2 separate regions of the Homo sapiens genome follow, and region 2 is linked to region 1. The links come from fine-mapping of genetic effects on gene expression. Tissue or cell type: whole blood. Region 1 holds a variant in brackets; the other region holds the start of a gene. All regions are shown on one strand. Distances are from middle to middle.

The links. PIP is the estimated chance that this variant, and not a neighbour inherited with it, causes the effect.
Region 2: it holds the start of PSMD4, and the variant in region 1 is fine-mapped to the expression of PSMD4 in whole blood (TOPMed, PIP above 0.99).

The regions. Positions count from the first base shown.
Region 1 is chr1:151,296,413-151,304,516 of GRCh38, reverse strand. It overlaps PI4KB (phosphatidylinositol 4-kinase beta), which reads left to right. Exons shown (of 12, transcript NM_001369623.2): 6 at 867-976; 7 at 2,219-2,323; 8 at 2,550-2,673; 9 at 5,444-5,709. It also overlaps the pseudogene RN7SL444P. Among named protein-coding and RNA genes, the nearest start is that of ZNF687, 18 kb to the right of the region's middle. RefSeq lists an enhancer at 8,012-8,104. The variant G/C (reference allele first, on the strand shown) is at 3,267.
Region 2 is chr1:151,250,476-151,258,569 of GRCh38, reverse strand. It overlaps PSMD4 (proteasome 26S subunit ubiquitin receptor, non-ATPase 4), which reads right to left and starts at 3,836. Exons shown (of 10, transcript NM_002810.4): 1 at 3,762-3,836. The coding sequence starts at 3,787. RefSeq lists a silencer at 3,575-3,714 and an enhancer at 3,755-3,944.

The sequences.
Region 1 (8,104 bases):
AAAAAATTAGCCAGGCATGGTGGCGCGCGCCTGTAATCCCAGCTACTCAGAAGGCTGAGGCAGGAGAATCGCTTGAACCTGGGAGGCGGAGGTCGCAGTGAGCCGAGATCACACCATTGCACTCCAGCGTGGGCAACAAGAGCGAAACTCCGTCTAAAAAAAAAAAAAAAAAACACACAGCCAGGTTTCACTTTGCCAAAAGGCAGAATCTCTGTCTTTGAGCTTATAGTCCAATTGCAGAAATTAGACATTTAAGAAAAAAAAATTTAGATATACAACAAAGCAGTGTGTACTAGGTGACAAATGGAGTTGAGAAGAAATGCTCTGGTATGAAGGACAGAAGAGACTTGACATGGGCCTTGGGGTCTGGTAGAATATTCTGTATTTAGAGAGAGATGAGAAGATAAGATTGAATGACTTAGATTGAAGAAACTGTCAGAAGCTAGTCTGCAAAGAGTCTGCTTTGGACCCTAGGGGAGAACGCATCCCTATCCTTGGGGGACTCTCAGTGAGGCTGAAATTTTGAGCTCCTGTAATGGTCATGGCAGTGGTTTGCAAACTTTAGTGCATTGGAAGTCTTCTGGAGAACTTGTTAAAAATTCAGACTTTCAGATCCCATTCCTAGTAATTATAATTCAGATTGATGGTGGGGCCTGGGAATCTGCATTCTGGGTAATTCTACTGCAGGTAGTTCACATGTTGAGAAATGCTGCTCTGGGCAGCCTGGGGTCCCAGTAACCAACATGGTGTGTAAGCAGAGTTTGAAAGAGAGGGATGAGCATGCTGCAGTGATAGCAAGCAAGCAGGAGGGGAAAGACGGGAGACCTATACTTTAGCACTTCTGACCAGCACTCCCCTTTCTCCAGCTCCCCGAAGTGCATACCAACAGCTGTGACAACATCTCCCAGTTCTCTGTGGACAGCATCACCAGCCAGGAGAGCAAGGAGCCTGTGTTCATTGCAGCAGGGGACATCCGGTATGGCCAGATCACATTGCCCCTCATTTTTCATCCCTCTTTCAGGAACTTCCCATCTCTTTGTTACCTTCCTCTCCATCTCAATCATCTGTTGTTGGCCTGTGTCTTTCCCTCTTTCATTCTGTCCTTGTTTGGGGCCACCAAACTTGAGGCAATGAAGGTGTAGGTTGAGAAATTACTTGGGCTACCAAAGAAGGAAATTAAATTTTAAAAAGACTCCAAAGGGATGAAAGCACCAGAGGGGCCGGGCATAGTGGCTCACACCTGTAACCCCATCACTTTGGGAGGCCGAGGCGGGCAGATCACGAGGTCAGGAGATCGAGACCATCCTGGCTAACACGGTGAAACTCCGTCTCTATTAAAAATACAAAAAAATTAGCCAGGCGTGGTGGCGGATGCCTGTAGTCCCAGCTACTTGGGAGGCTGAGGCAGGAGAATGACGTGAACCCGGGAGGCGGAGCTTGCAGTGAGCCGAGATCGCACCACTGCACTCCAGCCTGGGCGACAGAACGAGACTCCGTCTCAAAAAAAAAAAAAAAAAAAAACAAGAAAGCACCAGAGGAAGGAGTTTGAGCAGTGTGTCTCAAGGTGGGGTCTCAAAGCGACTGTGTCAGAATCCAGGGGGAGGAAGGAGGACTTGTTGAAAATGCAGATTCTAGGCTGGGTGCGGTGGCTCACGCCTGTAATCCCAACACTTTGGGAGGCTGAGGCGGGTAGATCATAAGGTCAGGAGATCGAGACCATCCTGGCTAACACGATGAAACCCCATCTCTACCAAAAAAATACAAAAAAAAAATTAGCTGGGCGTGGTGGTGGGCGCCTGTAGTCCCAGCTACTCGGGAGGCTGAGGCAGGAGAATGGCGTGGACCCAGGAGGCGGAGCTTGCAGTGAGCCGAGATCTCGCCACTGCACTCCAGCCTGGGAGACACAGCGAGATTCTTATCTCAAAAAAAAAAAAAAAAAGAAAAGAAAAGAAAAATGCAAATTCTAGAGACACACCCATTCTGAATCAGCCTTGGTAGAGGAATATGGAGGGCCTGGTAATCTTAATTTTAACATGATTACAATCAGTTAGCAAAAAGGTGTCATTGGTTATGTTTTCTTCCATGAGTCCCTTTCAGCCTGGGTTCCTATCTTTGTGTGTCCAGAATCCAGGAGACAGTGCAGGAAATGTCAGTATAGACTGGGCATGGGGCTTGGGGGTAGCTTCTCCAAGCAAATGATGTATTTTCTTCCTGCCAGCCGGCGCCTTTCGGAACAGCTGGCTCATACCCCGACAGCCTTCAAACGAGACCCAGAAGATCCTTCTGCAGTTGCTCTCAAAGAGCCCTGGCAGGAGAAAGTACGGTGAGTTGGGTGTGGGTCTCTGAACCCCTCTCAAAGCTCAGAGGCAGTTGTAAGTGCTCACTGCACCAACTTTATTGTCCATCAGCCTCCAAAAAAATCTGTCAGGCTTCCAGGCTGTCTGGGTCCTTGCCCTATGGGGCGTTTGCTTGGGATTTTTTGTGGAAGCCATGTCTCTTGTCCTCACCCTGGCATCAACCTTTGACACCCTTTACTTCTGTCTTCACAGGCGGATCAGAGAGGGCTCCCCCTACGGCCATCTCCCCAATTGGCGGCTCCTGTCAGTCATTGTCAAGTGTGGGGATGACCTTCGGCAAGAGCTTCTGGCCTTTCAGGTGTTGAAGCAACTGCAGGTAAGAGAAGAGAAGGAGAGGCCAGGCACAGTGGCTGTAATCCCAGCACTCTGGGAGGCCGAGGCGGGTGGATTACAAAGTCGGGAGTTCAAGATCAGCCTGGCCAAGATGGTGAAACCCTGTCTCTACTAAAAATACAAAAATTATGGCCGGGTGTGGTGGTTCATGCCTGTAATCCCAGCACTTTGGGAGGCCGAGGCGGGTGGATCACGAGGTCAGGAGATCGAGACCATCCTGGCTAACACGGTGAAACCCTGTCTCCACTAAAAATACAAAAAATTAGCCGGGTGTGGTGGCGGGCGCCTGTAGTCCCAGCTACTCCGGAGGCTGAGGCAGGAGAATGGCGTGAGCCCGGGAGGCGGAGCTTGCAGTGAGCGGAGATTGCACCACTGCACTCCAGCCTGGGCGACAGAACGAGACTCCGTCTCAAAAAAAAAAAAATAAAAATAAAAATACAAAAATTAGCTGGGTGCAGTGATGGGCACCTGTAATCCCAGCTACTTGGGAGGCTGAGGCAGGAGAATAGCTTGAACCCAGGAGGCAGAGGTTGCAGTGAGCTGAGATTGTGCCACTGCAGTCTAGCCTGGGCGACA[G/C]AGCAAGACTCTGTCTCAAAAAAAAAGGAGAGAAAGGGAAACTCAGCCCAACTCCAGCCAACCGGAGGTGACTACACAGATTATTCTGCCGGGGACCACCTTCCTGCCAAGGTCTAAAACAAAAGCAGAGTAAAGAGAAGCTAGTGCAACTTTCCCCTGGGAAGAACAGCCATAGGAACAGCTCCACAGCGGCCTCTTTTGGCCCTTTTGTGACCTGCACCTGTCCTGTTCCAAGTCTGAACTTTAGAGTGCTAGGTTTGCCTTTTAGATCAAAACTTCCAAAATGTCCTGGCACCCTGGCATGGGCCTGTAGTCTCAGCTAGTCAGGAGGCTGAGGTGGGAGGATGTCTTGAGCCCAGGAGTTCTGGGCTGCAGTCCACTATGCCAATTGGGTGTCCGCGCTAAGTTCGGCATCAATATGGTGACCTCCTAGGAATAGGGGACCATCAGGTTGCCTAAGGGAGGGGTGAACTGGCCCAGGTCGGAAATGGAGCAGGTCAGAACTCCCGTGCTCATCAGTAACAGGATCGAGACTGTGAATAGCCACTGCACTCCAGCCTGAGCAACATAGCAAGACCCTGTCTCTGAGAAAAATATGCATTTGAAGAAATCAGCGTTTTTTTTTCCTTATTTTATTTTTTTTGAGATGGAGTTCTGCTCTTGTTTCCCAGGCTGGAGTGCAATGGCGCAATCTCGGCTCACCACAACCTCCGCCTCCCAGGTTCAAGCGATTCTCCTGCCTCAGCCTTCCCAAGTAGCTGGGATTATAGGCATGCGCCACCACGCCCGGCTAATTTTGTATTTTTAGTAGAGATAGGGTTTCTCCATGTGAGCCAGGCTGGTCTCGAACTCCCGACCTCAGGTGATCCGCCCACCTCCACCTCCCAAAGTGCTGGAATTACAGGCATGAGCCACCGCTCCTGGCTGAAGAAATCAGCATTTCTAACTGAAGTGAGCCAAAAAGAAAATTTTGCGGAGGCAAAGTTTAGTGACCCACCTTTTCCTAGTGTTAAGTGTGTGCTAAGGCACATGGAAGACCAATTTATTTATACAAGGCACTGAGATTTTTTCAAGAAATAGCTGTCAAATCTCAAGGTGAAGATCTAAATGTGAACAGTTTACTAATGCACTACTGAAGTTTAAATCTGTGGCACAATCATTGTAAACATGGGGTTCATTTCTCTAAATTGATTTCTAATCTGAAATTACTGGAAAACTTCCTTGCCCGTTTTTGCCAAACTCAATTTTTGGTTTTTGGCATATATCCATTATTCAAACTTAATGCCTCTAATTTTAATGCCAACACAATTGGTTGTAATCAAATTTTTAAATAATAATAATTTGGTCCTCCCCCCTTTAAAAAACAACATAAAAACTTCCCAAATTGGTCTGTAGCAGGTAGGTTATAGTGTGCTGAAATATTGATCTTCTGATACCCCTGGGTTGGTCACCTGCAAGCCACTTAATTGTTTAATACTGTTCTTTATACCATATAAATATTTTCATTTTCCAGAGAAGTCTTCTCTGGACCTAAATCCTTTCCTTTTTTCTTTTTTTTCGTCGGAGAGAGTCTCGCTCTGTCGCCCAGGCTGGAGTGCAGTGGTGCAATCTTGGCTCACTGCAACCTCCACCTCCTGGGTTCAAGCGATTCTCCTGCCTTAGCCTCCTGAGTAACTGGGATTACAGGCATACACCACCACGCCTGGCTAATTTCTGTATTTTTAGTAAAGACGAGGTTTCACTCTCTACTGAGGTTGGCCAGGCTGGTCTTGAACTCCTGACCTCAGGTGATCCGCCCTCCTTGGTCTCCCAGAGTGCTGGGATTACAAGCATAAGCCACCGCACCTGGCCTCTTTTTTCTTATTATTTGAACTTACAGCTCCCATTCTCCCTGCTTGAGAGGGGATAGTGAAGTTTCCTGTTCTCCCTGCCTGTCTTGGGCTTTCTACTTAGGTGATACCTTTTCCCACATACCTGAGTGTAGTTTCTGACTTTGTCAGGCCCTAGACTTCCTTTCCAAACTCCCTGGTCCTCACTGGGTTAAGTGAGTCTTACTCATTTGATGGCTTAGAATTCAATGCTACCAAGGAGAGAGGCTGGAGAAAGGGAAGAGTTTTAGCCTTCTTCTCTAGTTTGGAGAAAGATAAGAGTCCTGTATCCTCCATGTCTCCTCACAGTCCATTTGGGAACAGGAGCGAGTGCCCCTTTGGATCAAGCCATACAAGATTCTTGTGATTTCGGCTGATAGTGGCATGATTGAACCAGTGGTCAATGCTGTGTCCATCCATCAGGTGAAGAAACAGTCACAGCTCTCCTTGCTCGATTACTTCCTACAGGAGCACGGCAGTTACACCACTGAGGCATTCCTCAGTGCACAGCGCAATTTTGTGCAAAGTTGTGCTGGGTACTGCTTGGTCTGCTACCTGCTGCAAGTCAAGGACAGGTAGGTGACTTCTGCTGCTCATCCTAACATTTCTCCAGGGTTCTCTCTGTCCCTTCGTGTGTAGTTCTCAATTACTTATTACTGCCCTCCATGGCAAAGATGTGAAAAATGAAACAATGTATTTTAAGCAGAGACAGATGTGTTCCCATGACATTAAGTCAGGAGGCAGACTAATAAGAACTAGGGTAAAAGGGCAAAGAAATGAAGGATTTATGGGAGGACTAAGGGTTTGAGTGAGCAGGGTCTTCAAGGACAAGGGAAAATGATGACAGAGGAAGCTGCAGGGGAGGTACATCCCAGCTAGAAGAAATAATTGAATGTGATTAAAGCACAGACTGCACTGCATGGCAGTGGAGTAGGAGGTGGTACCATGAGGCAGGTAAATTGAGGCCAGTTGAAGAAGGGCCTTCATTGTGAAGCTTAGGTGTTTTATTTTGCAGGCAGAGGAATGACATGATCCAGTCTGTGTTGATTAAATGCCCTGTGGCACTGTGGGTGAAGGTGGATGTAATTGGGTGTTTAGCAACAAAGCAAGAGATAATAGGGCCTGGCACTAAGGGTAGTGGTTAGTGACTGAGAGCAGAAAGGAGAAACATGATGGAGATGAAGTGGAAACTCTCAGCCATGAACTCTCCTCACTTCTTATTCCAGCATATGATTTCCACAGCTTTTAAGTATCTGTTGTTTTGCCCAGAGCTGTCATTTTTTTTCAATATGACATGACCTTGATGAAAACTAACTACACATATAGGTGAGGCACATAATGTACAAAAATAATTACACCATCTAGGCCCTGCCTTCTAAGAGTATCTCCCAACAGTGACCCAGGGTCTCTGCCCTGAATGCTCCTATGAGTTCCAGCTCTAGACCCTCGGCACAGGGCAGCTGTCCTGGAAAGGTGGAAATGCAATGGCCAGTGCTGCTGGGGCTTCCAGTAACATGGTGGCCCATTAAGATCTAGCTAATAATGGCTGGGTGTGGTGGCTCATGCCTATAATCCCAGTACTTTGGGAGGCTGACACGGGTGGATCACCTGAGGTCAGGAGTTTGAAACCAGCCTGGCCAACATGGTGAAACCCCATCTCTACTAAAATACAAAAAGAAAATTAGCTGGGCCTGGTGGCAGGCGCCTAATCCCAGCTATTTGGGAGGCTGAGCAGGAGAATCACTTGAACCCGGGAGGCAGAGGTTGCAGTGGGCCAAGATGGCACCATTGCACTCCAGACTGGACGACAAGGGTGAAATTCCAACTCAAAAAAAAAAAAAAATTTATATATATACATACACATACATACATACATTAGCTGGGCTTGGTGATGCACACCTGTAATCCCAGCTACTCGGGAGGTAAGGCAGGAGAATTGCTTGAACCCAGGAGGTGGAGATTGCAGTGAGCCAAGATCATGCCACAGTACTTTAGTCTGGGCAACAAAGCGAGTCTCAAAAAAAAAAAAAAAAAATCTAGCCAACAAGGCCGAGGCAGGAGGATCGCTTGAGCCCAGGAGTTCGAGACTAGCCTAGGCAACATAGTTAGATCCCGTCTCTACAAAAAATAAAAATTAGCCAAGCATGGTGGTATACAGCTGTGGTCCCAGCTACTTTGGAGGCTGAGGTGGGAGGATCACTTGAGCAGGAGGTTAAGGGCAACAGAGTGAGACCCTGTCTAAACAAAACAAAACAACTAGCTAGCTAGCTAGCTAACAGAGCAGCTTATTAGAAATGTAGCATCTAGGCTGGATGCAGTGGCTCACGCCTGTAATCCCAACACTTTGGGAGCCTGAGGCAGGTGAATCACCTGAGGTCAGTAGTTCAAGACCAGCCTGACCAACATGGCAAAACCCCATATCTACTAAAAATACCAAAAATTCACCAGGCGTGGTGGCGCATGCCTGTAATCCCAGCCACTCAGGAGGCTGAGGCAGGACAATTGCTGGAACCCGGGAGGTGGAGGTTGCAGTGAGATGAGATCGCGCGACTGCACACCAGCCTGGGTGACACTGAGACTCCATCTCAAAAAAAAAAATAAAAATTAGTCTTAGGCTGGGTGTGGTGGCTCACGCCTGTAATCCCAGCACTTTGGGAGGCCGAGGTGGGCAAATCGCCTGAGGTCAGGAGTTTGAGACCAGCATGACCAACACGGTGAAACCCCATCTCTACTAAAAATAAAAAATTAGCTGGGTGTGGTGGCGGGCGCCTGTATTCCCAGCTACTTGGGAGGCTGAGGCAGGAGAATCACTTGAACCCAGGAGGCAGAAGTTGCAGTGAGCCAAGATCGCACCATTGCACACCAGCCTGGGTGACAGAGTGAGACTTCATCTCAAAAAAAAAAAAAAGAAATCTAGCATCTATTAAGTTCTGCCATGGCCTGACATTCTTATATTTAAACCAGATGAAA
Region 2 (8,094 bases), 46 kb after region 1:
AGGATCACTTGAGCCCCGGAGGTCGAGGCTGCAGTGAGCCAAGATCACACTACTGCACTCCAGCCTGGGTGACAGAATGAGACCCTGTCTCCCCCAAAAAAAAAAAAAAAAAAAAAAACACTCGAAAAGGGTAATACAATGGCACATGTGCAAGGCAGTCACATCAACAGCAGGTTCCCCATGATGCACTACATGGGGCCAAGAACTATGTGCATACTGCCACAAAAAGAATAAAATACCTTGGCTGGGTGTTGTGGCTCATGCCTGTAATCTCAGCACTTTGGGAGGCTGAGGCTGGTGGATCACCTGAGGTCAAGTGTTCGAGACCAGCCTGACCAATATGATGAAACCTCATCTCTACTAAAAATACAGAAAAAAATTACCCGGGCATGGTGGCACGCACCTGTAATCCCAGCTACTCGGGAGGCTGAGACAGGAGAATCATTTGAACCCGGGAGGTGGAGGTTGCAGTGAGCCGAGATGGCGCCACTGCACTCCAGCCTGGGCAACAAAAGCGAGACTCCATCTCAAAAAAACAAACAAATAGACAAACAAACCTAGGAATACAACTAACCAGGGAGATGAAAGAGCTCTACAATGAGAATTACAAAATACCGCTCAAATAAATCAAAGAAGATATAAACAAGTGGAAAAACATCTCATGCTCATGAATAGGAAGAATCAATATCATTAAAATGGCCATACTGCCGAGCATGGTGGCTCACACCTGTAATTCCAGCACTTTGGGAGGCTGAGGTGGGCAGATCACTTGAGGCCAGGAGTTCAAGACCAGCCTGGCCACATGGCCAAACCCCATCTTTACTAAAAATACAAAAAAAAAAAAAAAAAAAAAAGAAAGCCAGGTATGGTGGCGGGTGCCTGGAATCCCAGCTACTCAGAAGGCTGAGGCACAATAATCACTTGAACCTGAGAGGCGGAGGTTGCAATGAGCCGAGATCACACCACTGCACTCCAGCCTGGGAGACAGAGCAAGACTCTGTCTCATAAATTAATTAATTAATTAATTAAAATTGGCCATTCTTCCCACAGCAATTTACAGATTCAATGCTACTCCTATCAAACTACCAAAAACATTCTTCAAAGAACTAGAAAAAACTATTTGAAAATTCATATGGAACCAACAAAGAGCCAGAAAAGCCAAGGCAATCCTAAGCTAAAAGAACAAAGCTGGAGGCAACTTTACCCAACTTCAAACTATTACTTAGGGCTACAATAACCAAAACCGCATGGCACTGGTACAAAAACAGGCACAGAGACCAATGGGACAGAATAGAGAGTCTAGAAATAAAGCCGCACACCTATGACCATCTATTCTTTGACAAAGCTGACAAAACAAGCAGTGAGGAAAAAGAGTCCCTATTCAATAACTGGGGATACTGGCTAGGCTAGCCATATGCAGAAGATTGAAGCTGGACTCCTTTCTTATACCATACACAAAAATTAACTGAAGATGGATTAAAGACAAGGTAAAACCCAAAACTATAAAAATCCTGGAAGACCGGCCGGGCACAGTGGCTCACGCCTATAATGCCAGCACTTTGGGAGGCTGAGGCGGGCGGATCACCTGAGGGTGGGAGTTCGAGACCAGCCTGACCAACATGGAGAAACCTGGTCTCTACTAAAAACACAAAATTAGCTGGGCGTGGTGGCGCATGCCTGTAATCCCAGCTACTAAGGAGGCTGAGGCAGGAGAATCGCTTGAACACGGGAGGCGGAGGTTGCGGTGAGCCGAAGGTTGCGGGGAGCTGAGATTGTGTCATTGCACTCCAGCCTGGGCAATAAGAGCGAAAAAAAAAAAAAGTGGGCAAAGGAGCCGGGCACAGTGGCTCAACGCCTGTAATCCCTGCACTTTGGGAGGCTGAGGCGGGTGGATCACCTGAGCTCAGCAGTTTGAGACTAGCCTGGCCAACATGATGAAACCCCGTCTCTACCAAAAATACAAAAAAGCTGGGCGTGGTGGCGGGCACCTGTAATCCCAGTTACTCAGGAGGCTGAGGCAGGAGAATCACTTGAACCAGGGAGGCGGAGGTTGCAGTGAGCTGAGATGGCGCCACTGTACTCCAACCTGGGCAACAAGAGCAAAACTCCTTCTCAAAGAGAAAAAAAAAAAAAAAAGTGGGCAAAGGACATGAACAGACATCAGACACTTTATTTTTATTTATTTATTTATTTATTTATTTATTTTATTATTATTTTTTTTTTTTTGAGAGGGAGTCTCACTCTGTCGCCCAGGCTAGAGTGCAGTGGCGCCATCTCGGCTCACTGCAACCTCCACCTCCGGGGTTCAAACGATTCTCCCACCTCAGCCTCTGGAGTAGCTGGGACTACAGGCGTCCACCACCACGCCTGGCTAATTTTTGTATTTTTAGTAGAGATGGGGTTTCACCATGTTGGCCAGGCTGGTCAGTAACTCCTGACCTCAGGTGATACACCCACTTCAGCCTTCCAAAGTGCTGGGATTACAGGCCTGAGCCACGCCCCAGCCAGACACTTTTCAAAAGACGATATACATACAGCCAACAAGCCTATTAAAAAAACCTCAATATCACTGATCATTAGAGAAATGCAAATAAATCAAAACCACAACGAGATACCACCTAACACCAGTCAGAATGGCTATTACTAAAAACTAAAAAAATAACAGATGCTGGCAAGGTTGCGAGAAAAGAGAACACTGTTCTATCGTTGGTGCAAGTGTAAATTAGTTCAATCACTGGGAATCACTTGAACCAGGGAGGCGGAGGCTGCAGTGAGCCAGACTGGGCCACTGCACTCCAGTCCGGGAGACAGAGCGAGACCGTCTCAAAAAAAAATTATTCATCGTTTATCTGAAACTCAAATTTCACTGGGCATCCTGTATGTTATCTGGCAATGCTATGCTCCCCCGAGAAAATAAAAAGAAGAAATCTCATAGGTGCCTGTTTCACCCAATCGGTGATTTGTGTTCGTCAACTATTCTGTATTACATTCAGTGATTACACTTAGAAGGAACTCTTGAAACCCTGCAAAAATTTATGTCCTCCTCTTCTAATGTGACTCGTAATAGGTACTCAGCCCAAGCCTGAAACTGACAAAGAGAGCTACCTCACCGGATAAAGCCTTTGTGTCAGACAGCCGTGGGTTTAAATCTTGACTCCACCACTTAACTAGCTGTATGATTTTGGACAAATCACTTAAAATCGCTGAGACTCGGTATCCTGAACCGTAAAATGGAGAGATAATTTACCTTAAGGTGTGGTTGTGAGGTATAAGTGAGATAAACAAAATGACTGATACATAAAAAGCAATCTGTAAATGGTACCTTTGAAGATGATACAGGGAAAGGTAATGAAGTTAGAGACGAGGGAATGGGGAGAGGAAGGGATTAATAATCTATTTTCCTAATAGACGTTATTTTGCAAAGAAAGGAGGGCAGAAAACTATTACGATGAGTCCGAAAAGCAGAACTGTAGCTAAAGACAGACCCGGGCTGCTCTAGAGAAGACGGCGCTAGAACAGAGAAAGGAAGCAGGAATGACCAGTCAATGACCGTCCCCCTGGGGGTAACAGTGGTAACCCGGGACTATCCGCCACTCCAGGGCCCCGGGATGACTCAGGGAGTCCAGCGGGCTCCTTACCTCCGGGGCCAGGGCCGCCTCTCGCCCATGAGCCCCTGGCCCCCACCCCAGGCCCTCCCTGCCTTGGCGCTACACGCGCCCGGAACCCAGCTCTGCCCCTCCTGCCCCGAAGTAGCTCCTCACCACACCATAGTGCTTTCCAACACCATCTTGCCACCTTCCTCCCTCCCGACCGGGTCTCCGGGACGGCCTAACAACAACTCCTCCAATTGGCCCGTCGCTCTTCACCAATCACAGACCTCGGCTTGGCCAGCTGCTTCCGCCTCCGTCCCCCACGTTGCGTTCTGGGAGTTGTAGGTGCCGCCAAACAAATTTGTAGGCGTCTTGAGGGTAGTTGAAGGGAATCGCGGTAACACAAAAAACAGGATCTAGCCTCCACTTTCCCTGCCATTGCAGTTCTCAGTTGGGGTTTCCCGCTGGCCGGATCTCAGGGGAGCTATGGAGGAACCTTTGAAAGTGCTGTGTCGATTCCGGCTTCGGCATTTTAAAAAAGTGTCGGGATCGGCCGAGCGCGGTGGCTCACGCCTGTTAGCCCAGCACTTTGGGAGGCCAAGGCGGGCGGATCACGAGGTCAGGAGTTCGAGACCAGCCTGGCCAGCATGGTGAAACCCTGTCTCTACTAAAAATACAAAAAATTAGCCGGGCATGGTGGCGCACGCCTGTAATCCCCGCTACTCGGGAGGCTGAGGCAGGAGAATTACTTGAACCCGGGAGGCAGAGATTGCAGTGAGCCGAGATCGCGCCACTGCACTCCAGCCTGGGGGACAGAGTGAGACTCCGTCTCAAAAAAAGAAAAAAAAAAGTGTCGGGATCGCTAATGACTTTCTACAGCCCTCAGTTCCCTGTAGAATTTTAATTCAACAAGCCCTTATACCCTTCAATTGAATTTATTTGTATATTTATCTCCTCCCTCGTTTAACTAAGGGTGGGCAACGTGCCTTTTTTTTTTTTTTTTTTTTTTTTTTTTTTTTTTTTTTTGAGACGGAGGAGTCTCGCTCTTTCACCCAGGCTAGAGTGCAGTGGCTCGATCTCGGCTCACTGCAACCTCCACCTCCTGGGTTCCAGGGATTCTCCTGCCTCAGCCTCCCAGGTAGCTGGGACTACAGGGGCATTCCACCATGCCCGGCTAATTTTGTATTTTTAGTAGAGACGAGGTTTCACCATGTTGGCCAGGCTGGTCTCGATTTCCTGACCTCAGATGATCCACCCACCTCAGCTTCCCAAAGTGCTGGGATTACAGGCGTGAGCCACCACACCTGGCCGGCAACGTGTCTTAATCTTTACAATTCCCTAAGCCCAGTACAGAGCCCGGAAAAGATTTGACAACTCAATTATATTAACTAATCTGCCAAAGAACAAACCACTAAACCGTTTTGGTTAATCAAAAATTACATTCAAGGCCTGATGCAATGGCTTAGGTTTTATAATCCCAGCGTTTTGGGAGGCCCAGGCAGGAGGATCAACTCAGGCTAGGAGTCTGAGACCAGCCTGGACAACACAGCCAGACTCCGTCTCTACAAAGTTTTATTGTTTGAGACAGGGTGTCGCTCTGTTGCCCAGATTGGAGTGCAGTGGCCTGATCTCGGCTCACTGCAATCTCCACCTCCCGGGTTCAAGCCATCCTCCTGCCTCAGCCTCCTGAGTAGCTGGGGCTATAGGTGCATGCCACCAAGCCCAGCTAATTTGTTTTTAATTTTTTGATGTGGGAGGATGGCTTGAGCGCATGAGTTCGAGACCAGCGTAGGCAACATAGCCAGACCCCATCTCTGAAAAAAAAAAAGTCTCAAAGTGTTGGGATTACAGGCGTGAGCCATCACATCAGCTGGATATTTGATATTAAGCAATTTTTTTAGGCATGATAATAGTGTTAAAGTTATCACCCTTATAAAAGTAGGCTTTATTAAGGGTTATATGTTGTATTCATAGATAAAAAAAGTATATGAAGTTTGGGATTTAACTTAATCCTCTGGAAGAAACAAATAGTTTTGTTTTTTGAGACAGGGTCTCAAAGTAAAACAAAAGAGACAAGGTCTCACTGGGCTGGAGTGCAGCAGTGGTGCAATCATACATAGCTCACTGCAACCTCTAACTCCTGGCCTCCCATCTCAGCCTCCGAAAACTGGGATTACAGGCTTGAGCCACTGCACCCGGCCACGCTGGTCTTATTTATGTTGATAATTATTGAGGCTGGGTTATGTGTACATAGTGGTTCACCATACTACTCTACTTTTGGTTTGGAAATTCCCATAATGAAAAAAAGAAGGCCAGCTGGGCACGGTGGCTCACGCCTGTAATCCCAGCACTGAGAGGCCGAGGTGGGCAGATCACTTGAGGTTGGGAGTCCGAGACCAGCCTGGATACCCCCGTCGCTACAAAAAAATACAAAAATTAGCTGATTGTGATGGTGCCAGCCTGTAGTCCCAGCTACTTGAGAGACTGAGGTAGGAAAGTCGCCTGAGCCCAGAAAGTCAAGGCTAGAGTGAGCTGAGATTGCTCTGGGTAACAGAGCAAGACTAAAAAAGAAAACCAAGGCTGGGAAATCTCAGCACTTTGGGAGGCCGAGGCGGACGGATCATAAGTTCAGGAGATCGAGAACATCTTGGCCAACATGGTGAAATCCCATCCTACTAAAGATACAAAAATTAGCCGGGCATTGTGGTGGGTGCCTATAGTCCCAGCTACTCTGGAGGCTGAGGCAGGAGAATCACTTGAATCCGGGAGGAAAAGGTTGCAGTGAGCCGAGATCGTGCTATTGTACTCCAACCTGCGCGACAAGAGTGAAACTCCGTCTCAAAAAAAGAAAAACAAAACTAATAAAGAATGAGACTTCATCTCTGAATACATCTCAGAATAGCTGAGATTGACATGCTTAAGGGTAAAATATCAGACCAGATGACGATTTCCAACTTTATTATCCTATGATTTTAATTTCTCTTTTAGTTAGAAGTTTTACACTAATAGACCCTACTTGTATCTGAATATAAATTAGAGCATATAGCTAGAGAATAAGCACTAGTCGCTGCTCACCGCTAGAGGGACCCTCTGATCATAAGAGGATTATCTACACCACCCATTCAGTAGTTTTGAGTACACTCTGAGTGACAAGGTCAGGGATGCAGAACATTTATGCCTAAAACATGTTAACCTCCAATTCCTATTAGGGAAAAAAGTTTTCTCCTTATCCAGACAAAAGGAGGACTGGCTGGGGCTGTGGGAAAATCAAATTCAAAACTTTGAGAATCTGGGCCGAATGCAGTGGCTCACGCCTGTAATCCCAGCACTTTGGGAGGCCGAGGTGAGCGGATCACTTGAGGCTAGGAGTTTGAGACCAGCCTGGCCAACATGGTGAAATCTGTCTCAAAAAAAAAAAAAAAAAAAAGAAAGAAAGAAAGAAAAAGAAAAGAAAAATGAAAAGAAACTTTGAGAATCCCCCATTCCTCTTCCAATCCAAGTACTTGCTTTTTCTTTCTTCTTTTTTTTTTTTTTTTTTTTTTTGAGATGGAGTGTCACTCTGTTGCCAGGGTGGAGTGCAATGAATGGTGCAATCTCAGCTCACTGCAACCTCTGCCTCCTGGGTTCAAGCGATTCTCCTGTCTCAGCCTCCCGAGTAGCTGGGATTACAGGCGCCCGCCACCATGCCCGGTTAATTTTTTTTTTTTTTTTTTTTTTTTGAGAAGGAGTTTCACTCTTGCTGCCCAGGCTGGAGTGCAAGGGCTCGATCTTGGCTCACCGCAACCTCTGCCTCTCAGGTTCAAGCGATTGTCTTGCCTCAGCATCCCAAGTAGCTGGGATTACAGGCGTGCACCCACCACGCCCAGCTAATTTTTTGTATTTTTAGTAAAGATGGGTTTTCTCCATGTTGGTCATGCTGGTTCTCCCTGTTGGTCGAACTCCCAACCTCAGATGATCTGCTCGCCTCGTCATCCCAAAGTGCCGGGATTACGAGCGTGAGCCACCGCGCCTGGCCTAATTTTTGTATTTTTAGTAGAGATGGTGTTTCGCATTGTTGGCCAGGCTGCTCTTGAACTCCTGGCCTCAAGTGATCCACCCATCTTGGCCTCCCAAAGTGCTGGGATTACAGGTGTGAGCCACTGGACTTGGCCAATCCTCTGTTTAATTCTGATGGAACTTTGTTAGTCTCTCAATTATTTTGTATCACATCCTATTGGGGCAAAAAATATTTCAGGGTTCCCAATATTGCCTCTAACTATACTTATTCCAATATTCTCATCATGATCTCTTCCTTGTTCTCAAAAACAGACCATTCTCATGCATCTAGGTCCTTGTGCTGAAGTGAAACATTCTCTTAACACTTCTTTCGCACGTAACTGCTAATTTTTCCCCCTTTTATGTTCTGTGCCACCTTCAGAGAGCTTAAGTAGCTGTCTCACATATAACATATTGTTTTTGTGATTTGTGTTCCTCCTGGAAACTAGAAACTTTTGAAGGACAATTA